Linked DNA regions of Homo sapiens: regions 2, 3 and 4 are each linked to region 1. The links come from fine-mapping of genetic effects on gene expression. A gene starts in region 1. Each other region holds a variant in brackets. All regions are shown on one strand. Distances are from middle to middle. Region 1 holds the start of FBXW8 (F-box and WD repeat domain containing 8). Region 2 overlaps FBXW8 (F-box and WD repeat domain containing 8). Region 3 overlaps FBXW8 (F-box and WD repeat domain containing 8). Region 4 overlaps FBXW8 (F-box and WD repeat domain containing 8).

Region 1 (5,000 bases):
GTTCACGTGGTGAAACTTGGAGTTGAAAAGACCTGGATCCAAATTCAATCCCCAGAATCTATCAGTGGGGTAATGCTGGGCAAGTTACAGAGAATCTCTGAGTTTCTTCATTTGTAAAAGGAGAGTTAAAATCTACCTCACAGGATTGTTATATTCGAATTAGGGCAGAGCACAGGACTAAACACTTGGTAAAAACTCAAATAGTAGCTATTAATGCTATTTGAGTAAACTACATATTACATAAAATAATAGGCCATTATTTCTTGAAACAGCTTGCCACTTAAAAGAATTATTCTCGGCCGGGCGCGGTGGCTCACGCCTGTAATCCCAGCACTTAGGGAGGCCGAGGCGGGCGGATCACGAGGTCAGGAGATCGAGACCATCCTGGCTAACACAGTGAAACCCCATCTCTACTAAAAATACAAAAAGAAATTAGCCGGGCGTGGTGGTGGGCGCCTGTTAGTCCCAGCTACTGGGGAGGCTGAGGCAGGAGAATGGCGTGAACCTAGGAGGCGGAACTTGCAGTGAGCCGAGATCGCGCCACTGCAACTCCAGCCTGGGCGACAGAGCGAGCGAGACTCCGTCTCAAAAAAAAAAAAAAAAAAAAAGAATGATTCTCAATTGGGAGGATCACTTGGGCCCAGGAGTTTGAGACCAGACTGGGCAATACAGGGAGACCTTGTCTCTACCAAAAAATTTAAAAAATTAGCTGAGTGTGGTGGCGCATGCGTGTAGTCCCAGCTACGCGGGATGCTGAGGGAAGAGGATGGCTTGAGCCAGGCAGTTTGAGGCTGCAGTGGGCCGGGAGAGCAACAGTACACTCTAGCCTGGGCAACAGAGCAAGACCCTGTCTCAGAAAAGAAAGAAAGAAAGAAAAAAAAAAAAAAACAGGAAAAAAAAAAGTGGGTTCCCAATTGTAAAGCTGTAGGGACTTCCTTTGGGCCTAATTTAAATCAAACCATTAGAACCTGGAGCCTTGTCCTCTTAACCTGGGAGCCACGGATGCATTTCAGGTGTTCTTGATTTTCCCAACTTTCTGAAGGGGATTATTTTTAACGGACACAGGGTCCCCAGCTTCCTCCAGATTCTCCAAGGTATCCACGCCCCACAAAAAGATAAGAAACTCTATCCTAATGAAAGTGCCCAGGAGATTCTTCCTCCTCTTCTTCCTTTTTTTCTGAGATAATTTTTTTGAATACGTGCACGGTTACAAAAATTAAATAGTGCAAACAGTATACAAAGGTAAAATTACTTCCTATCCATCATCTGGGTCCTCCTTTTCAAAGGCAACCTTTGTTCAAAGTTTAGGTAGCCTTCAAGAGCAGGATTTCTCAACCCCACACTTACTGATATTTTGTCCTGGATAATTTTTTTGTGCGTGGTGTCCTGTACACTGTAGGATGTTCAGGAGCATCTCTGGCCTCTACCCACTAGATGCCCAGTAACATGCACACATACACACCCCGATGAGGCACCCAAAAATGTCTGCAGACACTGCCACATCTGGGGGAACAAAATCGCCCTGGTTGGGAAGTGCTGCTTCCAGAAAGACCCCTATGCAAGCACAAACATTGGTGTTTGTGCGTCTACTCATTTTCTCGGGCAACTAGTGGCACACAGTTACTCTCCAAATCACTGCAGGGGTTTGTCCTGGGGGCGGGGGCCGGCGCAGGCATGGGCGGGGGGGAGGCGACGGCCACTCACCAGGTCGCGGATGAGCTGGTCCACCAGCTGCTCCCCGCCCCCGGCGCCCTCGCGGGCCAGAGGAGAACGTGAGCGGCTCGCTACGTCCTGCCCCTCGGCCCGAGTCGCCCGCGCCGCCGGGGGCCTCCCCGCGCCCTCCAGGAGACGCTGGGCCAGCGCCGGGTCCCCCGAGGCCTGTTCGCCGCGCCCGGAGCCCACCTCCGGCCGCCGAGCCCGCCTCTCGGCAGCCTCGGGCCGTCGCCGCTTCTTCGGCGCCTGGGCCTGCGCCAGCTCCTCCTGCCAGCGCCGACGGAACTCATCCAGGCTGTAGTCGTCCATATTCGCCGCTCCCGGCGCTCCACGTTCTCCTCGGTTCCACCGGGTGCCACGAGACAGTCCCGCCCAGGGAAGTGTCCGCCGCGGCCGGAAGCCGCTGCCGCCGCCGCTCTAGGGTTCCGGGTGGGCGTCCACGCCCCCGCCACGCCCCCGGCGCTGCCCCTGTACGCACGTGGTGGTCCGGCTTGTGGCTTGTGGCGCCCAAAGCAGAGGTTTACGCAGCTGCCCCTCAGCCCGTCAGCTCTGCTGCCTATCACTTTTGCTAAGCTCTGACTTTGCGCCAAGCATTGTTCCTTCATTCAACAAACATTCATTCAGCAACTACTATATGCCAGGCACCAAGAATTCAGCATTTAAATCTGTAAAACAAAACAAAAACTCTGACGTCTTGGAGCATGCGTTTAAGTAGGGAGACTTTAAACAAAGAAATATGAACATTTAAATCAGTGATAGGTATTAGGAAGAAAACAAAATAAGGTAAGGTAAGGGGAGTAAGGATTGATAGTGAAAGTCTGTTTAAGATGTTATTTAAATTAAAATCTAAAAGAGAATCAACAGGTGGATAAAGAAACTGATATATACATATGGTGGAATACTACTCAGCCATAAAAAAGGAATGAATTCATGGCATTCGTAGCAACCTGGATGGGATTGGAGACTATTATTCTAAGTGAAGTAACTCAGGAATGGAAAACCAAACATCGTATGTTCTCACATATAAGTGGGAGCTAAGCTACGAGGATGCAAAAGCATAAGAATGACTTATGGGACTTTGGAACAGGGGAGGGGGACGAGGGGAGGGTGGGAAGGTGGGGAGGGATAAAAGACTATAACTTGGGTTCAGTGTATACTGCTCGGGTGATGCGTGCACCAAAATCTCACAAATCACCACTAAAGAACTTACTCATGTAACCAAATACCACCTGTTCCCAATAACCTGTGGAAATAAAAATTTTTTTTTAAAAATCTGAAAGAGAAACCAGCCAAGGGAAGGTCAGATCTTAGGAGAGAGATTTCCAGAAGGAAATCCAAGGGCTTTAAGATGGGAAAGAAAATGACATACGATGGCGTTCCACTTAAAAATGTTTTCTTTGCACCTGATATTCCCTCAGCAGGGAACTTTTCCCCCCACCTTGACTTGGTTAACTCCTACACATCTTTCATATCTCAACTCACATTTCACTTAATCTTCCAACCTCCACTCAAGAAACATCAGGTATCCCTGTTACTCATTCTCACAGCATCCTGTACTTCTCATCATAATACATAACACAATTTGTAATTTTATTTTTATGTATATATATATATCCCTTCCCTTCTAGATTGGCAACTCTTAGCTTTGAGACTGGTGATTAATACATGCTCAATAAATGGTTTTTTGTTTGTTTGTTTGTTTGGTTTGTTTTGTTTTTGAGACGGAGTCTCGCTCTGTTGCCCAGGCTGGAGTGCAGTGGCGCGATCTCGGCTCGCTGGAAGCTCCGCCTCCCGGGTTCACGCCATTCTCCTGCCTCAGCCTCCTGAGTAGCTAGGACTACAGGTGCCCGCCACCACACCTGGCTAAGTTTTTGTATTTTTAGTAGAGATAGGGTTTCACCATGTTGGCCAGACTAGTCTTGAACTCCTGACCTCAAGTGATCCACCCACCTCAGCCTCCCAAAGTGCTGGGGTTACAGGTGTGAGCCACCACTCCAGGCTCAAAGATGCTCTTGCAATTAACTGTCCCTTATTCCTTGTCTAACTCTTCTTAGTCTCTCAGGCCTCTTCTCTAGAATCACTTCTGTAAATAAACTAGCTGCCTACAAACCCAGGGCTCAGGCTTGCTTACTGTGGGAAACCAGGCTTGGACAACCTTCACTGTAGAAAATTAGAGTATATGGTTGGGCGTATATTCACACCACTACACTCCAGCTTGGGCGACAGTGCGAGACTCTGTCTCAAAAAAACAAAAAAAAGAAAGAGCATCTCTGAGTTGGTCCTACTGTGGCAATTTAGGCTCATTCCATTAGCACCTTCTAAGGAGCCTTAGAACACAGCTCAGAATTGTCCTCCCAAGAGATAAGAGCCAGAAGAGGAAAGCATTTGTCCAGTGACTCTCATCCCCTACTAGAGAAAGGCTAAGCCAAGGAGCTTTAACAACCTCCCACTTCTAGATTGGGTATAAGTAAACGGATTATCATGGATGTTCCGTACCAAGGCAGCAGAGATGCTCTGGGGCAAAAAGCAGGAGGTACACTGTGCAGCTAACAGGAACGACTGTCAGGTTACACGTGCACAAAGCCAGTTGCTACAGCAGTGACTAAGGTAAAAGATGAGTGAAGTGATGCAAGATGGAACATAAGCATCCAATACAAGTAAGCATTCTCTTTTTTTTCCGTAAAGGTTTTATTATACACAGAAGGGGAAGAAGTCTCAGTTCTTCTTGGCAGCCATTCGCTTCCTGGAGGTCAAGATATTGCCCAGCTCCTCTCACTTCTTATGGTGCAGATGTGTGTCCCCGCTCTCTTCTTGATGAACTTGAGGGTCCACTTTTTCTTGGAGACCTTGAACAATTCCAAGGTGCATCACTTATATAGAACAAAGCCACACACCTCTCACATCATGTCCCACACGAACTTTCTGTGCTTGGTGGGGTGCCTGCGGTGGCAGCAGTGGCCATGCTTGCTCACATTCTTGGTCCTCACCTTGTGGCCCTCACTGAGACCCACAGACATGGGAGACCACAGAAACATGGCTGCTGCTCATCAGTGGCTGCTGCCAATAAATATTATTGTAATAAAAATAAAAACGAGCTAATTTTTCCCCATTCCGCTAGCATCCCATTCATCCCATGTGCCTTCCATGTGAAATCCAAAGGTCATACTTACTTTGATTATCTACTTGCAAGTCAAAAGCCAAATATCACTTTTCTGGTATCTCTAGATTTTATGGACCATCTAACACTTAAAACAGAAAGCAAACTGGAATTAAAAAAAATGGGGTCT
Region 2 (8,094 bases), 23 kb before region 1:
TGAACCCCTCCTCTATTTACATTCACTTCCTTAATGTTCTCATTTGTCTCCTGGCCTTAAATACCATCAATGTGGCTGACAGCTTCCAAATTTCCATCTTCAGCCCAGAGCTCAACGAAGAGCTCATCCTCAACCTCACAACCAATGAGTGATCTTCCCCCATACCCACACATGCTCCTTCCATGGTCTGCTACTTGTCGGTAAACAGTGAACTCATTCCTCCAGTTGCTCAAGGCAAACACCATGGAGCCCTTGTTGACTCTCTTCCTTCTGTCCCCACATCCAGCCCATCCACAATCCTGACTCTGTCCACTTCTGCTGGTGCCATCCTGGCCCAAGCACCACATCCTCTTCTCTGGATTACTTCAGTGGCCTCCTAACTGGTCTCCTTGCTGCTGTCCTTGTCCCCCAACAACCGATTCTCCACACAGCAGCCCAAATGGTCCCTTTTTAAACGTAGGGCAGCCCTTGTCACCCCTCTGCTCAAAGCACTCCAAAGGCTTCCCATCTTATTCACAAAACTTCGAGTTCTTTTAATGGATTAAACGCTTATCACATCCTGAGTCCTCTCCTCCTCTTATCCTTCTGCTCACCACATCCCCGTATCAGTCTCCTATGGCTGCGCTAACAAACTACTACAAACTTAGCTGCTTAAAACAATACAGATTTATTCGCTTATAGTTCCGGAGACCAGAAGTGTAAAAGCAAGGTGTGGGCAGGGCTGCATTCCTTCCGGAGGCTTCAGAAAGAAAACAGTTTTCTTACCTTTTCCAGCTTCAAGCTACCTACATTCCTTGGTTTGTGGCCCCTTCCTCCACCTTCAAGGCCAGCAACACAGCATCTTCTCTCCTCCCTGACGTCCTGCCTCCCTCTTACAAGACTTGTAATGCACTGGACCCACCTGTATAATCCAAGATAATCACCCCATCTCTAGATCCTTAACCTAATCACATCGGCAAAGGGCGTTTTATCATGAAAGGTAACATACTGGTGGGATTCAGGGATTAGGACGTCAGCATATTTGGGAGGGCCATTATTCAGCGTACGACAACCACCCACTTGGACCTTCCTGCTGTTCTTCAAACACAACAGGCGCACCCTGCCTCAGATGAGCTTCAGCTGTGTCTGCCTCAAGTCCTTCGTCCTTGCTATTCCACTCTGCCAGAGATCTGCACAGTGTCCTTCACCCCTCCTTCAGGTCTTTGCTCAAAGCTCACCTTCTCTGCAAAGTCTTCCCTGGCCACTCAAAAGTGCAACCCCCATATCACCTCTACTGTCTTGTTCTTCTCCATAGCACTCACTGCCATCTGATAACTCTATTTAATCATGTCTTTATTGTATATACAATGGAAGCTCTCTGAGAAGCTGGTTTTTTATGTTTTATTCTCAGCTGTCTTCACTATATAGAACAGTACCTCGCACATACATAGTCAGCTCTATATAAATAACCAAATGAGATAAAAGTGTAAGTCCAACTTTTTTTTAAAAATTAGCATTGCTTTTAATTCTCAAAGGTCATAGACACAGCTCAGCTCCTGGCATGTGCTGCCCTCCGTAGGCTCCTTCTTATTCACATGTATTATTTTGCTTTATGCTTTTTTTTCTAGTAAACTTTTTAATTGTGGAAAAGTTCAAACACACAAGAGTAAAGTGAACAATATAAAGAACTCCAAAGTACCCACCACTTAGCTCAATGTTCATTTGCCATTCTTGTTTCATCTAGCTCCCAATCTGTTTTTTAGAGTGATTTTGCCTTTCCCTAAATTTGTGCTTAAAGGAGGCAGCCAAAACAATCACATGAATTAAAAGGAACTCCTGAGGGCACTTGGGTCTTGAGCATACAAGGAACCTTCCACAGAACTTCCTGATAAGAGAAGTCTGGCGGCAAGGGTGAAAGTGAAGAACTAAGGGAACCCTGCCAGCAACTACAGGTCTGCAGAATCACTTTTGCCAGGAAAATCAATTCAGCCTCACTTGGCTATGGATTCCTGACTCACACAGACTTCATTAAGATTATAGATCTTTAGCTATAAGCACCTGGATTTTAGTTTCTCCTACATGGACATAAAATCACATTTTCCTTGAAACTTGAAATACCATAATCTAATATGCTGGTCTTTGGTTCTAGAATTACTTATTTATTTTGCTGTCAACTACTTCTTGCTCACCAATATTATCATAAATTTCAAGTTTTTAACCTCTGCATCTTCCCTCTTTTTCTTTATTACTTTGTTTATGCACGTTTTTCTATCTTTTACTTGATAAACATGACATCATTACTTATGCAGCTAAATTCCTAAAATTACATATTAGGAAATACAAAGCACTAAAATATACATTAAAAAACTGAAAACAAAATTATGGAGTTGGAGAACAGATCAGTGGTTGCCAGGGGTTAGAGATGGAGCTGGGGGTGAAAGGGTCGGGGAAGGACTTGAGGCCAGTGTGGCCGTCAAAGACTGTGAAAGAGTAGCACAAGAGATTCTCGTGATGAATGTTCTACATGTTGACTGCGGTGGTGGTCACACAAATCTACATCCATGTAAAGTTCCATAGATTCACAAATAAGTGCATGTAAAACTAGTGACATCAACAAGATTTGTGAATTGTGCCAATGTCAGGTCCTGGTTTGCTACTGTTCTGTAGTTATGCGGGATATTACCAATGGAGGAAACTGGGGGAAGGGTACACAGGAACTCTCTGTACTATTTTTTGCAACTTCCTATGAATTTATAATAATTTTTAAAGTTTAAAAAATGAATATTGGTAAATACCTAAAAGCCATCACTCCTCAGAATTATTCACACTGTAATATAATGGCAGACTTACTTTTCTCCTAAAAACCAATTTGTAATTTTGAAACCAACAACTGTATCATTGTTATCGACTAAAAAATTGTCTCCTTTAAATACCAGGAATCCTGTGGGCACAAAAAAAGATGAACATAAAATTATAAATAGCAAGATTACAAACCTGTTCAATGAACTGTCCAACAAGTAACTTTGCTTACTAAAAGCTACACTGTTTTCAAGATGTTTCGGCAAGAAACACTCCCACAGAGAGATTAAGTCCCTCGAGGGACAACTATTGAAAGGAAGGAGCTGGAGACCTCAGCATCAAAAGTACACACAGATCACAAACTAATGTAGCAGGACTTCAGTTTTCAAAACATAAAGCCTCAAAAGCAAAAAAAAGAGGAGGGGATATGGAAAGGAGGCAAAGTCAAAGCAAAATCAGTCTCCGGCATGGTTTGTGGGATAATTAAATCTCAAAGGCCTCCCAGTAACAGAGTTTCTTACTGTTAGTCAGTTACCAATTTGGCATAAAGATCTAAGCAAACAGGTTTTCTCCAAGGGCATACATTTAGTTCATGGTGCCAATTCCACATAACTGGCCCAATTTCACTAAAATCCCAAGGCACCTAGATTAAAAGAGAGATGGAGAGAGAGAAAAAAAGCAAGCCCCTCTAAAATAAAATCATAAAGCAGCAGGACATTCCACAGAAGGATTTCCTCCCTGTTTCAAAATAAAAACACCCCAAGAAACAAATGAAAGTGCTACTTATTTTTATTACTTTGTGGTTTTAATTTTAATGATTGATGAAACAAAGCCAATTCTACAAACTACTGGCCATCTATTGTCATTCTCATGTAAGAGCTCCATAAAACTCCTGACTTCACAGATCACAGCTAACTTAGTCACTGTAC[G/A]CTAACGGGGTTCTGTTTAAGAATATTTTCTATTCTTATATATGTGCTCTAACAACTGGGTTAACAACAACAACAAAAAGCCAAATCCAACTGGCCATAGAGGGAAGAATTCTGGTGGACAATTGGACTACTGTGTTGCAAATTAAACTGTTCACACCTGCAGAATAATATCACCAGCATAACCAATCTACCCTGTAATGCAGCCCCATTGTACCAAAAGGGGATCTCTTCTTCCACTAGATTCTATCTTTCTCTGATAAACTCTTTGGATGAGAAAACCAGCAGCAGATGTGAAAGCCACATGGCTCTCTACAAAGCAGGGGAGCAAAAAGCAATGTTAAAAGAAATGATTTCTTAAACAGCAGCTCGCTATCAAGAATGAAGATTTTATCATCTAATGCTGACTTTGTGTAAAGCAGCTAGCTATTAGACCCTGTTCCAAGACTTCGGCTAACAGCATCAGGCTGAAATCCAGGAATTGGCCTCATTTAGCTACACTCTTGTTTTCAACTCTTGGGAGCAGGCCAATGTGTAAAGTTAGAATATAACAAATCAAATTTCCAAGGGGAAAGAAAACAATATAGGTACTCATGCTTAATGCAACTCATAGGCTCTGAGCACAGTTTACACTTCAGCACATTTTTTTTAAGTGAATTTTAGCCTTTAAATAATTTCCATCATTTCCTAAAGACACACACTCCGCATCAAAAAATATCTGCCAATGCCCCCACTTAAGCAATACTAACAACAATAATCAAGAATATTGAAAATTCTTTCAAATTCATATTCAAGTAGAAAAACGATTAAGCAAAATGCTTCACAAAGAAAGATTAGAACGGCTGGGCACAGTGGCTCACGCCTGTAATCCCAGCACTTTGGGAGGCCGAGGCAGGTGGATCACGAGGTCAAGAGATGGAGACCATCCTGGCCAACATGGTGAAACCCCGTCTCTACTAAAAATACAAAAATTAGCTGGGCATGGTGGCGCACCTGTAGTCCCAGCTACTTGGGAGGCTGAGGCAGGAGAATAGCTTGAACCTGGGAGGCAGAGGTTGCAGTGAGCCGAGATCGCGCCACTGCACTCCAGCCTGGTGACAGCGAGACTCCGTCAAAGAAAAAGAAAGAGTAGAACACCATAAACTGTCTAAATGGTCCTGTATCATGTGTGATTTCACTGAACTGCCATGGAGGTAGCAAGCTCCAGAGTCTAAATTTGGGTACAGTTTTCACCACTCTCAAACCGCCTTCATATGCTGAACTTCATAGTCTTGCTGGTGCTTTGAATTTTATGTTCAGTTTTCCTACCAGTGAATTTTGCAAACCCTTGCTCTTGAAGCTGTAAACACCTGTGTAAAATGCAGTATAGAATCCAGGGATGAAAATGCTAACCATTAAACAAACTAATTTTTTGGCAGTTATGGAGAATGGATACTCCAGTGTCTCCTAGAGAATACAGTTGTCCATCAAAGGCCAAATGGTTAGCAATCATACACCCATTTAACTTACGAAAAATCAACAGAAATCTATAAATGTAATACAATGCATTAACAGAATGAAGGAGAAAAACGATGTGATCACCTCAGGTGCAGAAAAAGCATCTGACAAAATTCAAGATCCTTTCATGATAAAAACTCTTAATAAATGAGGTATAGAAGAAATGTACTTTAACACAATAAAGGCCACATGTGACAAAACCAAAGCTAAAGTCATACTTAGTAAAAAGTTGAAAGCTTTTCTTCAGGAATAAGACAAGGATGCACACTCTCACCATTTCCATTCAACATAGTACTAGAAGTCTTAGTCACAGCAATTAGGCAACAGAAAGAAATAAAAGGCATCCAAGCAGAAAGGAGGAAGTTAATCTGTTCCTGTTTACAGACAATATAAACATAAACATAGGAAACCCTAAATACTCCACCAAGAAACTAATAAACAAATTCAGTTATGGGTACAAAATCAATATACAAAAATCAGTAGAGTTTCTATATACTAACAACAAGCTATCTGTAAAAGAAATCAAGAAAATAACCCCATTCACAATAGCCACACCAAAAATAAATACTTAGGAACAAATTCAACCAAGGAAGCTAAAGACCAGTATGCTGAAAACTATAAAACACTAAGGAGAAAACGGATGATACAAATAAATAGAAAGATATTCCATGTTCATGGATTGGAAGAATATTATCAAAATGTCCATACTACTCAAAGTGAGTGAAATGCAATCTCTATAAAAATTCCAAAGACATTTTCACAGATACAGGAAAAAAAAAAGATAAAATTTGCATAAAAACACAAAACACTGCAAATAGCCAAAGCAATCCTGAGCAAAAAGAACAATGCTGGAGGCATCACAATACCTCATTTCAAAATATACTACAAAGCTATAGCAATGTACACAGCATGTCACTGGCATAAAAACAGATATATAGACCAGTAAAACAGAACTGAGAGCCCAGAAATAAGCCTGTGCATTTACAGTCAACTGATTTTCAATGAAGGTGCTAACAACACACAATGGGGAAAAAAGTCTCCAATAAATGGTGTTGTGAGAACTGGATATCCACATACAGAAGAATGAAATTAGATCCCATCTCACACTATTATAAAGAAGTGAACTCTTACTTGAAGCCAGGAGTTCGAGACTAGCCTGGGTAACAAAGCAAGACCCTGTCCTTACAAAAAATTTAAAAGTTAGCTGGGCATGTTGGCGTGAGCCTATAGTCCCAGCTACTCGGGAGGTTGAGGTGGGAGAATCACGTGAGCCCAAAAGTTTGAGGCTACAGTGAGCTACGATTGTACCACTGCATGCCAGCCTGGGCAACAGAGTGAGGCTCTGTCTCAATAAAAAAAATAAAAATAAGTTCAAAACGGATTAAAATCTTAAACATAAGACTTGAAACTGTAAAACTATGGGAAAGAAACTTAGGGGAAAAACTCCATGACACTGGTATAGGTAATGATTTTTTGGATATGACCCCAAAAGAACAGGCAACAAAAACAGACAAATGGGATTACATCAAACTAAAAAGCTTTTGTACAGCAAAGGAAACAATCAACAGAATACAGAGACAACCTATAAAAGAGAAAAAATATTTCCAAACCATATATCTCATAAGCAGTTAATATCCAAAATATTACATAAGGAACTCAAACAACTCAATAGCAAGAAGACAAAAAACCCAATTTAAAAATGAGCAAAGGACCTGAATAGACATTTCTCAAAAGAAGACATACAAATGGCCAATAGGTATATTTAAAAATGCTCAACAATACTAATCATCAGAGAAATGCAAATTAAACTACACCTGTTAGAATGGCTATTACCAAAAAGACAAAACAAGTGCTGGCAAAGACATGGAGAGAAGGGAACCCTTGCACACTGTTAGTGGGAATGGAAATTAGCACAGCCATTAAGGAAACAGGTTCCTTAGAATATTAAAAATATAACTACCATATGATTCAGCAATTCTGGTTGCTGGGTATACATCCAAAGGAAGTGAAATCAGTTTGTCAAAGTGATCTCTGTACTGCCAGGCTCATTGCAACATTATTCACAACAGCCAAGATACAGAATCAACAGATAAATGATACATAATGTGGCATGTATACACAATGGAATACTATTCAGCCTTTAGAAAAAAAAAGAAGGAAATCATGTCATTTACAACAACATGGTGGATGAACCTAGAGGGCATTATGTTAAGTGAAATAAGCCAGCCACAGAAAGACAAATATTGCATGATCTCACTTAAATGTAGAATCTAAAAAAGTTGAGCTCATAGAAGTAGAGAGTAGAATGGCGGTTACCAGTGGCTGGCGGGGCAGGATGGGACACTGGAAAGATGTCAAAGGATACAAAATTTCAGTTAGATGAGAGAAATAAGTTCAGAGCTCTACTGTACAACACAGTGACTTCAGTTAATGATGTATACTTGAAAATCACTAAGAGATAGATTTTAAGTGTTCTCACCACAGAAAATAAGTATGTGAGGTAATACATGTTAGTTACCTCAACTGAGCCATTCCACAATGCATAGATATTTCAAAAATCATGTTATACCTGATACATATATATAACTTTATTTGTCCATTTAAAAAAATAAAATGAAATTTTTAAAAAAAGAAAAATCAGTCCAGGCCCAGTGGCTCATGCCTGTAATCCCAGCACTTTGGGAGGCTGAGGTGGGTGGATTACTTGAGGTCAGGAGTTCAAGACCAGCCTGGCCAACATGACAAAATCGTGTCTCTACTAAAAATACAAAAATTAGCTGCATGTGGTGGCATGAGCCTGTAATCCCAGCTATGCGGGTGGCTGAGGCAAGAGAATAGCTTGAACCCAGGAGGCAGAGGTTGCAGGAAGCCGAGATCGCGCCACTGCACTCCA
Region 3 (8,094 bases), 66 kb before region 1:
CTGATCGAGCCAACATTTTAGTGACATATAAGAATTGAAAGGATACCTGTTTTCATAAAACACACACTGGAGAGAAACAAATATTTAATAACTAAAATATAAAACACAATGATCACAGAGAGATATACACAAAGCACAATGGAACAATGAATAAGCTTAACTTTTGGTCATGCTGTCACACTATTTTAAGACCCCAGAAAAGGAGCAGCAAACTTTTCTAGATGTTTTAACTTGAACCAAGTCTGCATTTATTGCATAACTACTAAGGAAGAAGTAGTTAATGCCTGTCAGGGTCAAGGAAATTCACTTCTCAAATAGGTATTTTTTTTTAAATCTGATATAAATTCATTTGAAAGGTCAAGTGTTATCATACTGCGGACCTAGCAATGAAATGGATTTGGCTCCTGACACTGTGAACTTGTGAAATGGCAAGACTGTGTCCTTTTCCCTCTCTATGCCCTATGGTAAGGAATTCACAGTGCTGGATGTGGCTGTACATCAATAAAGGTTTGCTTAATGCTTGTCATATGTTTCAGCAATGGAACATTTGGTTGTAAGAAACAGACACCCACTGAAACTGGCTTAAACATAAAAAGGAAACTGACTGGAAAGGAATGAGGCTACTTCATGGAGCCCAAGGGCAGGAAGTACAGCTGGAGGTGATAAGGGATCAGAACCAGGAACCAGGAAGACATGCAGAACCAAGGTAGTGTATGTAACTTGTGTGCACCACAGATCTTATCTCTGCTTCTCTCTGCAATTCTATTTCATTCTTCTTTTCGGAAACCAGCTTTCTCTCATCCCTGGGTACATGGAGAAAGGTGGCTGTCCCCATTCCAGGAGGTCTTCTACTCCAAGAATGCAACAAAGTTTGAGTCCCAACCAGCCCATCCCAGTCCATGAATCAGCTTCCCCCAAGAACTGGGGCCCCATCCCTCATCCAATTAGCTGAGGCCAAAAGACTAACTCAAATACTATGAACATGCCCACCTGGAGAGGGCCTGGGGAGGGACCTCAGGGCAAGGAGACAACCCCCTGCCCAAAGATCTCTACGACTTCTCTCCTGCACAGTAGGCCAAGGTAAAACAAGAGAAAAAGTCTCAGCAAACACAAAGGGAGGTTCTACTTGGTTTCTTGGCAGTGGCATAAGAAGCAAGTGTTTTTTTTTTTTTTTTTTTGCCATTCCCTGCACCAGGCATCATCCTGAAGGCCAGAGTTTATAGCCCCCATTTTGCCCCACACTAGAGAAACAGAAAGAGCAGGTGTTTTTCTTCCTTCCTGACCAAACCTCAATAGCTGGATAAAAGATGATTAATTCTGAGTAGTGCTGGGATTGCAACAATACTGTTTCACTCATAACAAACAGGAAAAGGATGCAGACAAAAGAAGAAACTGGGTCTCTTGAAACATCCAGAAGACAAGTGAGGACCACTGGCCCAATAAAGGAGAAGGGGCAGGGCCTGGCACTCCCACCTGCTCCCTGGGCTCAGGACCCTCCACCTTGACAAGCAGCAGCCAGGCTGAAGGAACTCTGAGCTCAGCCTAGACCAGTAACAGCCATTAACGATGACATGAGTAACGATGGCCAGTCTTTCGAGGAGACATAAAGCCTGCTCAGCAGCTGTGGATGGGCACCCATGCCAGTTTGCAGCAGGCCCCTCCCACCTCCCTAAGGAGGCCAGCCAGAGTGTGGTAATGAAACTGCACATAGTGGAAATGGGATCTAAATGAGTTTAAACTGATTTATGTTAGCTTTTGTAAAGATTACTCGATATCTGGAAAGTGCTACCACTGTGAAATAATGTCGACAATCCTTAAGACCTCTGTCTAATGGTACTTGCACAGAATATTTATATTCTTCGTCATGGGAACAAGGACCATAATGGATACCATTTTTGTTTTATTAGGGATGCATATTTAAATTAATCTGCTATTTGCCTAAACAATTAGCTGCTTCTGTTTGTGTGCACAAAGCCAAAATTGCAATTAAGCTTCCATCAAAAAGATAAGTCCCAACTAAAACTGTCCCGGTGGAGTCATAAGAGCTCAGGGCAGAACTTTCCAAAATTACTTTTTAGCATAATGGTAATTATGTTAATTGCCTGAAAGGTAAATAACTGCTGAACTGGTTTTGGAAAAAAAACACAATTGGTATACTCTTCCCTCCCCTTTGATCTTTTCCATGCACCACAAAATTTAAAACAGGTTAACAGTTTCGAAAGGTCATAGACTAGTCCCTTCTTCAACTACAGAGCTGGTCTTGTGGTCTTTAGTGGTTTCTTGATTAGAAATTATTTCAGCCGCGAGCTCCCATCCTCTTGAGCTTCCACAATAAACACCTGAAGCTTGGTGTCAACTTCATGATCGTTAAATAGACAGGATCAATTAACTGCGTTCAGAGATACTGAATGAAGTTGACTATTTATAATAAAGACAGCTGGCAATCTCAATTTCTACCATGTAAATAAACACTTGCCTATCAGAAATTAATCAGGAGTCAAAAGAAATTCTGCAACAAAGGAAAAGGCATTTTGACAAAAATTTTAAATATACCCATAGCACTGACTTAACACGTACCTCTTTGTTCATTAAGTCCACACATCACCACTCTGAAATGCAGGCCAGAGACATAAAACTAGCATAAAGTTGGACAGGACAAAAGTTTTTGCTCTTCATGGAAGAGGTGCCGGTGGGAGATTAGTATCAGTGTAGACAAGGGTCATAAAGAACAGCTAAACCACGGAGGGTCACGAAAAAGGAAAAAGGCTGAAGTTTCTTGTTACTGCAGCTACTGTGGCATGCCATCCTGCTTTCCCGCTGACCACAGCGCTACAGCTCTGTTGCCTAAGGCAGAAAATAAACAGAAAACATTCTGGAATCTGCATTTTAGATTGACAAGTAAAAGAATCTGAATAGGCTTATGGAGGAGGCGACTGGTTAGGGCATAAACAAAGCAGCGAGATCACCAAAATAGAAACTGAGTCAAGAGAAGAGGAAGTAAGATTGAATATATTTAGTAGCTCTCAAATTCAAAGCAGAAAGAACACCTGAAAAAGAAGAATGAAAAATGACGAGACAGCAGACTGAAAAGGAGGCAAATAGTATATTGTTAAGACTATGGCAATGTGACTAGATAGAAGAATTTCCAGTTAACATCTTAGGAAAAACAGATTGATGGAGAAGGCAAAGAATTTGGACCAGCTTCTACAAGGGAAAGTTCCAGAGGGCAGGTAACGTGAAAGAGACATCACTGTGCATGCAGCCTCAGACTGAGGCCAGTGTTCTCTATAACCGATATACACATGATATAGACTCTATCCCGAAGAGATCAGCAGACACTGGTAGTAGCAGATGCCTCTAAGGAGGGGAGTGGGGAATCAGTGGACTGGGTGGTAGTAGATTAAAAAAAAAAGATCACTACTGAAGCTGAGTGATGGGTACACGGGGGTGCATCATGCTATTCGTTCCATTTTTGTGTATTTTGAATTTTTCACAATAAAAGATTTTTAAGAATAACCATTTGAAAGGCTATCACTAACAAAAGTAAAAATACGTTAATTTGTGTTTTACAAACGTTTTCAACAGCCACACTGCAGACTAAGTGTCTTCTCAGATCTACGGTGAAAATTCTAGTGATGACATTTTGCAGCCTTTAGAAATCCCATTCCAAATCCTGAAAAAAAAATCTTAAAATTATACTATCAATTAATTCCCTTTCAAGGAAAGTAATAAATGGCTCAAATAAAAAGCAGGGGGAAAAGTCTACATAAAGATTTAAATGATGGCGAAACTGCAGTCGGTTCTGAGTTACCTAACACCAAATAAGAATGAGAAGACAGAAACCACAGACAGCCTAACATCTCACTTGGGCATTCAGATACCAATGCAAATCCCCCCAACAAATAGATGGTTTTGCCACAAGGCCCCGATGTCTGGGGTGGGGCTCTCGGGTCTCCCTCCCCTGTGCCCAGAGTGGATCACAAGAGCCCAATAGAGACGGAGACTCACATGGCCACCTGCCTTCCAGACCAGTGCTCTTCAGACTTTTTTGATTACCCCCTGAAATGATTTTGAAAAACAAGGCCTGCCTTTCCCGTTTTATATATGAAACCGATAAATTTTTTTTGTCCTAAGTTGTAAGTAGTGGCAAAAACGTAACATCTGGCATGTTTGTAAATGTTGACATTTTAAAATAAAATGGCTACACTATTCTTTAAAAAGTATTCTCTGGGAGGCTGAGGGAGGGCAGATCACTTGAGGCTAGGAGTTTGAGACCAGCCTGGCCAACAGGGTGAAACGCCATCTCTAATAAAAATACAAAAAAAAAAAAAAAATTAGCCGGTGTGGTGGTGCATGCCTGTAATCCCAGCTACTCAGGAGGCTGAGGCAGAAGAATCGCTTGAACCTGGGAGGTGGAGGTTGCAGCGAGCTGAGATTATACCACTGCACTCCAGCCTGGGCAACAGAGTGAGACTCTGTTTTGAAAAAAAAAAAAAAAAAAAAAAGGATCCTTTGGAAACAAAATACCAAAGATTAGGTACTCATCATCATGCATTTTTTTTTTTTTT[TA/A]AAGAAAAGGGGAGGGTGCAGGTGGGGAATAGCTTGAAGACAAATAGCAAGATACAAAAAAGAGAAATGCTGAGGATCCCTGATTATAACCACCACCAAAAGAACACAAGGGTACCATCTAATCTCAGGCCTCCAAGTCAGCCAGACAGCAGAAAAGCGGCAAGCACATTCTTTTCTAAGTAATCATGTAACATTGTTTTTAAATGGCATTAAATTGCTATGGGAAAAATCCAGTCTTATTTAATCCTGTAATTTGATAGTCTTTTTTGATTTTGAAATAATTTCAGACTTACAAAAATGTTATAAAAATTATGCAAAGAGTTCCAGTTATAGCTTCATCCAGCTTTCCCAAATGTTAACCTATTACATAACCATAGCAGAATGATGGAAGCCAGGAAATTAACGCTGATGCAACATATTTAATCTACAGATTTTATTTGCATTTAACCTGTCCTCTTACCAGCATATTTTTTCTGGTCCAGGATCCAATCCAGAATTCCACATAGCATCTAGCTGCCATGTCTCCTTCATCGACTCCAATCTGGGGCAATTACTCAGTCATTCCTTGTCCTTCATGACCCTGACACTTTTGAAAAGTACTGCTCATTTATTGTGTAGGCCTCTCAATTGTCTGCTGTTTCCTCATATTTAAAATCAGAAGGTGTTGTGCCTTCCCAGTGCATTATGTATCAGGAGGTACATAATATCAAAGTTTCATTACTGGCCATGTTAACTATCATCACTTGGTTAAGGTGGTATCTGCCAGTTTTCTCTACTGTAAAGTTACTGTTTTTCTCTTACGGAGTGATAATTTCACACCATGCAAATGTCCTGTTACTCATTGCTCATCTGAATGTTGTGTCCCCCCTACCACCATTTCAGTGTTAAAATCCTAACCCCCTAAGTGATGGTACCAGGAAATGAGACCTTTGGGATGTGATCAGGTCATGACGACAGTGCCTGAGAGCTCCTTTGCCCTTTCCACCATGTGAGAGAAGGCACTGCCTGGAAGGAAGGGCTCTCGCCAGACATAGAATCTGCCAGTGCCCTGATCTTGGACTTTCCAGCCTCCAGAAATGTCAGAAATATACTTCTGTTGTTTATAAGTCACCCAGTTTATACTGTTTTGTTATAACAGCCCAAACGGACAGAGACATTCATCACATTGATTTTAACATCCGCTGGTGATTCTTGCCTACGACAATTATGATTACGGTGCTTGCCAAATGGTGGCTTTCTATTTTCATCATCCTTTCCCATACAGCAATTCAACTACTACTGTAAGGAAGAGCTATCTCTTCTCCTTTATTTATTCAAGTATTTATTGATACCAATATGGACTCATGGGTAATTAATTATCCATAGGTTATAGTCCATCACTATCATCATGTTTTGTTGCTCAAGTTGTCCTTCCTTTAGCCCTCAGGAGCTCCAATTTAGTTCTACTGTCCTATAGATGCCCTACCTTCATCTTTTTATTTATTTTAAACATCCTTACTTTTGGGTCCCATAAAATGTTCCAGATTCATCTTGTATTTATCTGCCCTAGCCCTTGTTCCTTTTATTGAAGAACATTTAGAAACCAAAATCTGGGCACTAGCTGTGCTTACTGTTACCAGGGTACACAATATATTCTTTTTTTGGAGGCAGGTGTCACTCTGTCACCCAGGCTGGAGTGCAATGGCATGATCATGGCTCACTGGAGCCTTGACCTCCCAGGCTCAAGTGATCCTCCTGCCTCAGCCATGCTTCATTTTTATTGGATGACAGACATTGTGAATTTTACATTGCTGGTTGCTAGCTTTTGTTGTATTCTACAAAATAGTATGGAAGTTTATTCTGATGCAAAATTAAGACACTCAGAATCGGCTGGATCCTTTTGTGGCTTGCTTTCCAACTTTTTTTAGGGGATCCCGAGCAGCTTTTAGTCTAGGGCTGAATTAGCCCCATTACTAAAACATGGTACCCTTCTGAAGATTCCACTCAACAATCCATGTATTACGAGGTCTTTTTACTCTTGGGGAAGTGCAAACTATTCTTAGCCTCATGTGAGCTCCAGGAATTGTTGTGCCTTCTCCTTTCAGGTAGTTCTTTCCCTGATCCAGGTATTTCCTCTTACACATGTGCAGAGTAGGACTCAGCCAAAGACTCGAGGGAATCCTCAGCCAATCCCTGGGGTTCTCCCTCTGGGAGCTCCCTCTTCCCCAATACTCTGGCCCACAAATTCTATCCACCTTGGCTTCCCTGAGCCCTCACTGGGGCCTCCTCAAGTCAGGGAGGCCACCAGACTCTGTTTAGGTCCCCCTCCTTGTTTGGAGTTTCCAGCTGGTGAGCTGGTGTAACTGTGGGCCTCACCATGTTTGTTCTCCTCCAAGAGATCACAGCCATGGGCTACTTATTTTCCAATGTCTAGAAACCATGGTTTAATATATTTTGTCCGGTTTTCTAGTTAAGGTGGAAAGATAAATCCAGTTCCTGTTACTTCATCTTTCTCAAAAACACGTTATTTTTTATCTTTTTATTTTGAAACTTTCAAAATTACAGAAAAGCTGCAAGAACTTCTATATACTCACTGTTCAGATCCCATTGCCAACTGTCCCAGTAATGTTCTTTGTAGAAAAACAACCCAAGCCAGGATGACACACTGCACTCCATTGTCAGGTCTCTCTTCTCTTTCCACCTGGAATAGTTCTTAAGACCTTCCCTGAGTTTCATGACCTTGACAGTGCTGAAGAGGACAGGCCAGTCATTTTGTGGAATGTCCCTCAGTTTGGGCTTGTGTGATATTTTCTCGTGATTAGATCAGGCTGTGCACTTTTGGCTGGAATAATATCAAAGAAGTGATTCTGTGTTTTTTCTCACTGCATCGTGTCACATGGCACAGGTTATCAATTCTACCATTACTGATGATGTTAAATGTGATCACTTTATTAAGACGGTTCCTGTTAGATTTCCTGACTGCAGAGTTATCTTTTCCTGCCTTTTAATTAGTAAGTGTTTAGTGGGGAGATTTTTTGAGACCATGTAAGACCCCATCCCTCATCCCATTCTTATCCTCTGGTTTTAGCCTCAATTGATTTTTTGTCTGAATCAATTATTACTGTGATGGTTGCCAATGTGTAATTTTCTAATCCCATCATGCTTTCTGCATTTATTAGTTGACATTCTACTATAAGGAAACTTTTCTCTCCTCCCTTTTTATTTATTGATCTGTTTATTTTTATCATGATATACTCATATATTCCTATTTTATTCAATGGGTTGTAACCTGTTATTATCAATATTGACTTTGATACTCCAGTTGTCCCAGGTTTGGCCAGTGGGAACATCTTCAAGCTCACTTATGTGTCCTTGTGACATGTTGTCATCATTCTTCAAGCACTTCTTCACTTCAGTGCAATCAGATGGTCCAGGCTTACTGTGTGGTTTCACTGCCCCATCCCTGGAGTCCACCATTTCTCCAAGCATCCCTGGTTCCTTTTAGTAGATAGTGATACTTTCAACAGCTGGGCTGTTGATGCTCTT
Region 4 (8,094 bases), 92 kb before region 1:
CAGGCGGGCCCCGCAGCATCCAGGTGTGGCCTGGACTGGCTTTCCAGGCAAACTGTGAAGGAAAGAGCTGAGAGATGGCTCTTGTCCCTGTGGGGGTGGGAGGCGGGGTGAGCTCAAGGCAGACCAACTTCTTCCTTCACCCAGTAAGAAATGGATTAACACTGCAAGCTCTTCCTAAATTGGGGGCTATCACCCTCATAATTAATCATGAACCACTTGCATACTGAAATCACTGTGAAGAGATGATAGAGCCTTACCCTCTCAGAATTTTGGTCCTATACTGATGAATGAGGAAAGGAACTCTGTGTTTTAATTTTACCAAAATACTGAGTCTTCATACTCAAATACCTGCTACAGGCATTAAACCACCACCAGGCATTAAGCCACCCCAGCAGCTGGCTCAGCTCCCCAGAAGCCCAGCACTGTCTGTCCAGAGAGCCCAGGAGGAGTCGGAAGGCTTCCTTACAAGACAATAGCATTTTAAAAGCTTTTTCAATTGAAGATGATTTGTTGGCCGCCATTTAAAAAAGGGCAGTGGCAAAGAGAGCCAAAGGTTAGGAGGTGCTGTGCTGGGCTGAGTGGAGTATAAGAGAAGAGGCACGAGAGGAAGATGTGACTACACTTCCTGAAGATGATACCATCTACCCACTTTCTTTTCTGATCCCTAGTAACCTGCCTCACATATGTGGCTCTTGGCTCTTCTGAACAGGGAAGTTGTGATCAGAGGCCAGATGCTGGGCAGTGAGGCAGTTAAACCGCCTGCTCTCTTCTTTTCCGTCCACTCCAGCTGCCTTTGTGCTCTCTTCTCCATGATGTCCTTGGCACATAGTGCCCATTCCCCTGGTCAGTGCTGACAGTCCTTGCTGTCTGCACGCATCACGTGGTGTTTCGACAAGGTCACCCTGACCTGTGTCTTATCTTCTTCCGGCTCTTCCCCAGATCTGTGGTTCTCAGATACTGGAGGGGAGGAGGCGGTGACTCCAGCAGGTCAGGGGAGGCTCTGCAGCACTATTACCAAGCACCACACCGCATCACACTACACGTTGTAACACTCTCCTAGGTTTCAACTCTAAGGTTCCTAACTCTAAGGTTCCTGGGGACAGAGATCCTATCATTCATTCATTCATGTGGCAATTATTAAAGGGCAGTACATGCCAGGTACAGTGTCAGTTACACATTCCCGCATCTCACTAAGTGCCTGCATTTGTGTTTGGAGGCTCACTGATTGGTACACGATGCCAGGCAAATCCAGAGCTTCCTATAGTCTCAGACCCCAAAGATACTCAGATGTTGCTTTTAGTGCTTTAACACCTTCCTCCACTCCTGGATCTTGCTGCTGGTATGTACAAAGGAACTGCTCCATCCTACCCAAAACAGAAGATGGTTCCACAGAGATCTCTTCATACTATTCAGATGCCAGAGTGCCCCAACTACATCCAGTCCGACAGTCCCACCTCTGACAACATGGCAGACAAGAATGTCTGGAAAACCTTGCCATTTACAAACAGTGACCATGCTGGATAAGACTCAGCCTATCATCAAACAGTCCTTCAGACATTCTGTTTAATAAGCAATCAGAGAAATTCACAGGAGCCCAAAATGGAGACAGCATGAAACCCAGATGAAGAGAGCACGAAACCCAGGAAGTTAAGAGAGCATTCAAGCCAGGGGCTAGTTTGGACCCTCCCTCCAGTGTCAGGAGCCTGGAGAGCTGGGGAAACAGGAGAGCTGGGGAAACAGGAGACCAAGCATCTGCCCAGCATGAAGTAGAACCTACAGTTGGGTCCCTGCAGGGCTACATACATTCAGTAAAAAGCAAGCAAGATGGGGAAAGTATCTATTGGTGCAGAGAGCTTACCCAGAAACGTGTCTGCCTCAGGTTCAGTTCGGGGTGGAAAACAGTCTGAAGTCACATGTCTGCCCCCACACAAGTTCTGGGTTTGAGTTTACACCACCTGCAAGGCTAAAAGAATCCAAGCCTAATAAAGTATTTTCGGGTTGGTAACATACCTCCCAGTACCTTGGCAGAATCTTCTCAGGAGGGAAACAATTTCAACTCAGGCCCCTTTAAGAAACCTACAAATCAAGATCAACTGAGTATTAGCTCACAATTTAAAAAATCCAAATACAGCAAGAAGTGATATATCATATGTGAGACAGAAAAACAAGGAGAATTAGACTTCCAGGCAAGATCAAATAAAGAATACAAAATAAGCATGCTGAAAATGTTTACAGATAAAAGAGGGAGAGGATAAAAAGTAGGAAATCGGATTAAGCAGATTTGAAAAATAAAGCAGAGAATTTCTAGAAATTAAAAAGTCAATGGATGAGATAAGCAAGAAATAAGTCCGAGAGAGAAACTGTGGACTGGAATACCGAGTTGAGGAATTGGGCGGAATGCAACAGACAGAGAGATGGGAAATCTGAATGGGCAGTGAGCAGCACGGAGGAGGGGAGAAGCTGCCTTCATGCACACCTCCCCTGAGCTCCACGCAGAGCATCGCGATACATTTCCAGTAAGATAAGGGCCAAGAATTCTCTACAACTGAAAGGAGGGACACACAAGAAATCCCAGACAGTATAAAAATAAATAAATAAATCCCAGACATACAAAGAGACATTGGCATGAAACCACAGAAAATTAAAGACAAGGAGAAGATCTTAAAAGCAGTCAAAAGGAGAGAAAGTCCTAAAAGAGAATGACAGACTGACAGCCAACTCGTCAGTAGTGTCAGTGGAAGGCAAAACCAGTCATATCCTCAAAGGCTGAGCAAAAATAACTGTCAAGCTAGAACTGTAAAAGACTAGCAAAACTACCTTTCAAGGATAAGGATGAAATGAAGGTGCTGTAAGAAAGAAACACGGAAAACACTTGTGACCAAGTCCTTATGAAAGAAACTTCTAAAGAATGCACTTTTGGGAGACAGAAAATCATTCCAGAAAAAAGGTCTGAGGTGCTGGAAGAAATAGTCAACAAAGATTCAAGTAATGAGCATAAAAGAATCCAGATGCTGTCTGCAAAAACAATGTTGATTTGGGGGTTAAATACATAGAATAATCTGTACCTAGTCTTTATTCCAACCAGTCAAATGCCATGAATCAGGAAAAAGTACCATAACCATGGAAGATGCCAGATGCCCAGGGTGCGCCCCCCGCACTGTCTGGAAGGAACAGAAGCTCCTTTGGATACCTGTGCAGTGTTTGGCACATA[G/C]GAGGGGCTCAGTATACAGGTGATGAAAGAATGAGCAGATGAATACACACTGTACATGTCTGCGTGTATCTACCCCTTACAGGCGACTGCTATGCTGGCCTTACAGTAAAGACAGGCTTCACGCATACAAATGAACACACAAAGTCGATTTGCTGTCCACCAACTGCAATGTATACAGCTGTTTGCTAAGTGCCAGGTACACTTTTATTCAGTACAGATCTTCACATACAAGACTAGTGATGCTCCTTTTTAAAAAACAAAAGATACAAAAGAAAAAGTCCTATACATCTTCATGGTAGAATTTACTCACATAAACGACCCACATTGCTATTCTGACCCAACAAAAGTAAGATCCACAGAAACGTGGAATTGAACTACAAAAATGCAAGGTGTGCCTATCAACGTTCATGCACAAAGCTAGGTGAACAGTCTCTATAAATTCACAGATGAGCTAAGACTTTAAAAAAACAGGAATGAGAAAGATAGACAACTGGGGAGAGGGGGAGCCAGTGACAAAAGAGTAAATCATACACAAAACAGCCAATAAAAAAATAAAAATGCAGTTAATATACATGAATAATGGATGTCTGATTTAAAAGCAGTTTACTCCGATATGATGTAATTTTTGACAATCAGCCAGAGAGACTATTTTGTAAGTCCTTGCCAGAGATAAGTCATAGCGTGAGGCTTGGTAACACGGCCGTATCTGTGAACATGTGGAAAATGACTTTCACCACCATCCCAAAGGTGACTTTCTGTTGGCAAACAGAAGCTTGCCTTTCAGGTGCACTTCGCAGCAGCAACCGGCAAGATGCAAATCTTGAAGAAATGGATCCCTGACCCCCTCAACGTTCCCTGCAACATGGCACCCCTTAACAGTCTCCACGACATGCTTCTGGCACCGTCCATGCTCAAATTCAGCACAAAGGGAGAAGCAGCCTGAGCCGCTTTCATGTTTAAGTTTTAATTGGAGTGACAAGCCCACGAGGCCAAGATATTTCAGGGATGGGACGGTGTTGCTGAGCGTCGCCAGGCGCTGGGTAGGCAAGGCCTGTGTGCGCTCCCCACCACCACGTGCCAATGCACCTGCAACCCCCGCTGTTCCAGGACTGGACTCTTCCCGGGCAGGCAGTGCCAACTGCTGCGGGCTGTGCCAAACATGGGGGCTTTGTGATGTGGGCAGATGTCTACAAAGGACCGGAGTGAGGCCAAACCAACACCTATTGTGACCTAAGCCTGAAAGGAACCCACAGAGCAAGAGTACACTCGGGTACAAATCCAGGCAAAAACCATCCAAACCGGCCAATCTCTCTCTCTCAGCACGTCCGTAGGTGCTGGGAATAATAAAGGAAGGCCAGGCCTACTTTGTGGAGTGAGCAGAATATGGTTCTCTCTTTGCTTTGGGATCATTTTTGTCTCAGTGCTGGTGTAAGGGTAAGAAATGTGATCATGAAGACCTGGTTAATGCTCACATAACACAAACAGGGAATATTCATGTCAGAGCAGTGAGTCCAGCGAAGAGATGATAACCATCGTGCAAATGTATGACTGACTGGGAGCTGAAAATCCTTACACCCTCCTTCATGCTCCCAACAGGCCTCATCCCCACAGAGAGCATGGGCAGTGTCAAAATGCCAGGAACACTGACACACGGAAATAATCACCAAGAGAAGGTTATAATATCTATCTTACGGAGTGAAAACTGAGGCTGCAAACTATGAAGTGAACTCTTTAAAATTAAAGGCAACTTGCATACTATTTTGAAAATGAAAAGGTTACCATGAGATGCTCATAATGTACAAGTATCTGTATGCCGACAGGACTTAGTGAACATTGCACATGAAATTCAGTATATTACACTAGCTTGGTTATCGATTTTCTTTTGACTAGCCTGGCAACTTCTAGTTTGGCCCAAAGTTAGACTGGACAAAAGCTTCTAGAAGAGGGCAGGCAGGCAGCTAAAATCAGATCACTGAAACAAATAGCCCCAGGGGGAGACTGGGAAGCCGCAGCGAATAATCAGGGCCTTTGGTGGAGGGCAGCAGGTCCACCCAGGGGCTCCCCCCAGCTCCCTAAGGCATAACGGCCTCTACTCACTCTACATGGTGCATGAGGTATTGGCAGAGACATGCTTAGCAGCATTTTGCACATAAACAAACACTACACATATGAGCTCTTTGTAATACCCAGGACATGCCTTTCACACAAATTCCTTCGGAATATCCTTCCATTTGAATCTCACAACCACCAAGAGGGAGAGAAGACAAATACTACTGCCTACATTTTGTGCATCAAGAAACTGAGGCTTAAATAATTTTAAGTAGCTTGCCCCAAATTACATGGGCAACAAAAGGAGCTGAGGTGGCACTAGGTGGAGCGCAGCTCGTGTCATTCCTGCGCCACTTTGTGACCATATCACAATGTCTTTCCTGTCCTACCAAAATAGTTATTAATAACAGCTAATATTTATAATATTCTCTTACATGCAAAACACTGCTATGATGCGTTATCTCACCTGACCTCCACAGTGCTGTAAGATAGGTACCATGATTTTACTCCCTTTACACAGGAGAATATGGGGCCCTAAGGAGCTCAAACCTCTTGCCCAGTTAGGAAGTTTTGGCACCAGGATTCAAACCTGGGTGGGTGGTATCAAAGCTCATACTCTTTAAACCTCTACCCCAGGGTGCTCAAAGTGTGGTCCCAGGACTAGCAGCCTCCGCTGCTCTGGGCACTTGTTAGACATGCAAATTCTCAGGCCCCACCCTCGACCCACTGAGTCGGAAGCTCCGGGGGTGGGGCCAGTGCTCAGTGTTTTCATCAGGTCTCCTGTAGATTCTGATGCATGCTGGCATGTGAGAACCCCTGTGCTCTACCTATACTGCCTTTCAGGCTAACGAAGAACTTCAGCCATGACAGTGGTAAGTATTACTCAGCTATCAGTGCTTACTTCCTGCTTCCAAATTGCTGCCAATCTGGGGAGGCAATAGTGCTGGGCGGTGCCGGTATGAAAATATGAGATGCAGGCTGGGTGCGGTGGCTCACGCCTGTAATCCCAGCACTTTGGGAGGCCGAGGTGGGCGGATCATGAGGTCAGGAGATAGAGACCATCCTGGCTAACACGGTGAAACCACGTCTCTACTAAAAATACAAAAGGCAGGCGTGGTGGCGGGCGCCTGTAGTCCCAGCTACTCGGGAGGCTGAGGCAGGAGAATGGCGAGAACCCGGGAGGCGGAGCTTGCAGTGAGCAGAGATCGCGCCACTGCGCTCCAGCCTGGGAGACAGCGAGACTCCGTCTCAAAAAAAAAAAAAAAAAAAATGAGATGCAGACCCTGTGTTCTGTACAAGCTCAGGGCCAGAGCTCTGATGCTCAATGAGAGGCAGATAGTTTGTAAGGCTGCTTCTGTTAAGTAGGACTGTTTTTCAAAAGGACATGGCAAGACAGGAGAGGAAGAGGGGATGCTAGTGCCAGTCCCCGGTCAGGAATGAATGTGGCACATTGAGGATGGCGCTGGCCTGGCTGGAGCAGGGGTCTCATTCTGGAAGCACAGGACTAGAGAGCTAGGAGCTAAGATGGGGCCTGACTCCCCACAGTCTAGAAGGCCAGGCTGAAGATGGGCACCGGGGCCTTACCCATGCTCCTCGCCACGCAGCCAGTGCTCTGAGAAAACCTGAAGTGGACCGTGAGGAGGGGCACTGACAGGTGGACAGGTGCCACAAGAGTATAAAGGTGGGGAAAGGGCAGGGGCGAGCCAGGAAGGGGAAATGCGCTCGGGGAGGGATTATTTTCATGTCATTTTCAACATACTTTTAAAACTTGTGATCATGAGATCACAGTAAGAGTTCAAACCCAAGCAAACAGCAGAGTGCAAAGAAGCCACCCGGGCCAGATGGCCTAACCCTGCAAAGACCCAAAGAAATCTGGATGAGGAATTCAGTTTGGGGCCAGTCGGTCATCCCACGTCCCTGGCACAGTTCTCCTGCAGCAGAGGCAAGCTAAGGCTGGAAGCCAGGTCCAGCAGAGCAGCTCTCTGGACACAGCCCACTTCCTCATTTTAATGCACCTTCAGCCTCATGGCTCTTCCTGAGTCCCTTAGTTTGGGATGCGACCGCTCAGATGTGGGCTGAGCAGGAGTTTTCCTTTGCTCTCTACAAAGGGGATTTACCCTGTAAATTAATAACACATCGAGGGAATGCTTTAAAGAGTAACTTTGCGTCCATTAGAAGGATTCATCTGCAACTCAGTAATTGATAAGTTAATTACAAACCCACTCTCTAACACAGTGCCCTATAGAAGACTGAAGTGCGGAGGAAATTAATAAATCATAGTCATCTATGTACTGAATAAAAAGTGAAAGTTCTCTACTTGGTAATATTTTGTGAGTCTAAGCTGCGATGTGTATTTTGAAAACAGTAAAATGTTTTAAATATTCAGAAATTCAACTCACATAGGCCATTTGCTGAGTGCCCTCTTGCTCCTACTCTGCCCCAAACCAGCATCAGTCTCAACTGTCTGGACATGCAGGGGAAGCACACAGCCTCTTCTGCAGCACTAGTGTTTTCGTGTTTTCACCTCTGGAACAAAGGCAAACATTTCTAATAGGGCTCCCTTAGCTCCCCATGAACTGGAGAACGAGCTGATTTTTAACACTAACAATGCCTGGGCAGTGTTTACTCCCAGGCTTATTTGGCACAAACAAACCAAAGCCATACACATCTGTGAAGGTGAAATAAATGGAGTTAGCGCTAAGTTCATTCTCTTCCATGGTATAGGATGGTAAACCAGGAAGGCAATTCCACATAAACCATCAGGGAAGAAAAACCAGCCTCTAAATAACATTCTAAGCTTAATTTGAAAGCCAAAAGACAAGAAAGGCAATGAA

What was found. PIP is the estimated chance that this variant, and not a neighbour inherited with it, causes the effect. A credible set is the group of variants that fine-mapping cannot tell apart.
Region 2: its variant is the best candidate, but not a certain one, in a credible set for the expression of FBXW8 in whole blood (INTERVAL, PIP 0.66).
Region 3: its variant is the best candidate, but not a certain one, in a credible set for the expression of FBXW8 in whole blood (INTERVAL, PIP 0.67).
Region 4: its variant is the best candidate, but not a certain one, in a credible set for the expression of FBXW8 in esophagus mucosa (GTEx, PIP 0.51).

Annotation. Positions count from the first base shown.
Region 1 is chr12:116,908,060-116,913,059 of GRCh38, reverse strand. It overlaps FBXW8 (F-box and WD repeat domain containing 8), which reads right to left and starts at 2,110. Exons shown (of 11, transcript NM_153348.3): 1 at 1,705-2,110. The coding sequence starts at 2,022. It also overlaps the pseudogene RPL36P15. RefSeq lists silencers at 1,643-1,902, 2,063-2,282.
Region 2 is chr12:116,929,282-116,937,375 of GRCh38, reverse strand. The region is part of intron 2 of FBXW8 (F-box and WD repeat domain containing 8); the gene reads right to left. Among named protein-coding and RNA genes, the nearest start is that of FBXW8, 22 kb to the right of the region's middle. The variant G/A (reference allele first, on the strand shown) is at 3,708.
Region 3 is chr12:116,972,862-116,980,955 of GRCh38, reverse strand. All of the region lies in intron 5 of FBXW8 (F-box and WD repeat domain containing 8), which reads right to left. LOC100506551 (a long non-coding RNA gene) reads left to right here. Exons shown (of 4, transcript NR_103809.1): 3 at 537-706; 4 at 1,367-3,516. Among named protein-coding and RNA genes, the nearest start is that of FBXW8, 66 kb to the right of the region's middle. The variant TA/A (reference allele first, on the strand shown) is at 4,569.
Region 4 is chr12:116,998,418-117,006,511 of GRCh38, reverse strand. The region is part of intron 7 of FBXW8 (F-box and WD repeat domain containing 8); the gene reads right to left. Among named protein-coding and RNA genes, the nearest start is that of FBXW8, 92 kb to the right of the region's middle. RefSeq lists an enhancer at 1-493. The variant G/C (reference allele first, on the strand shown) is at 3,212.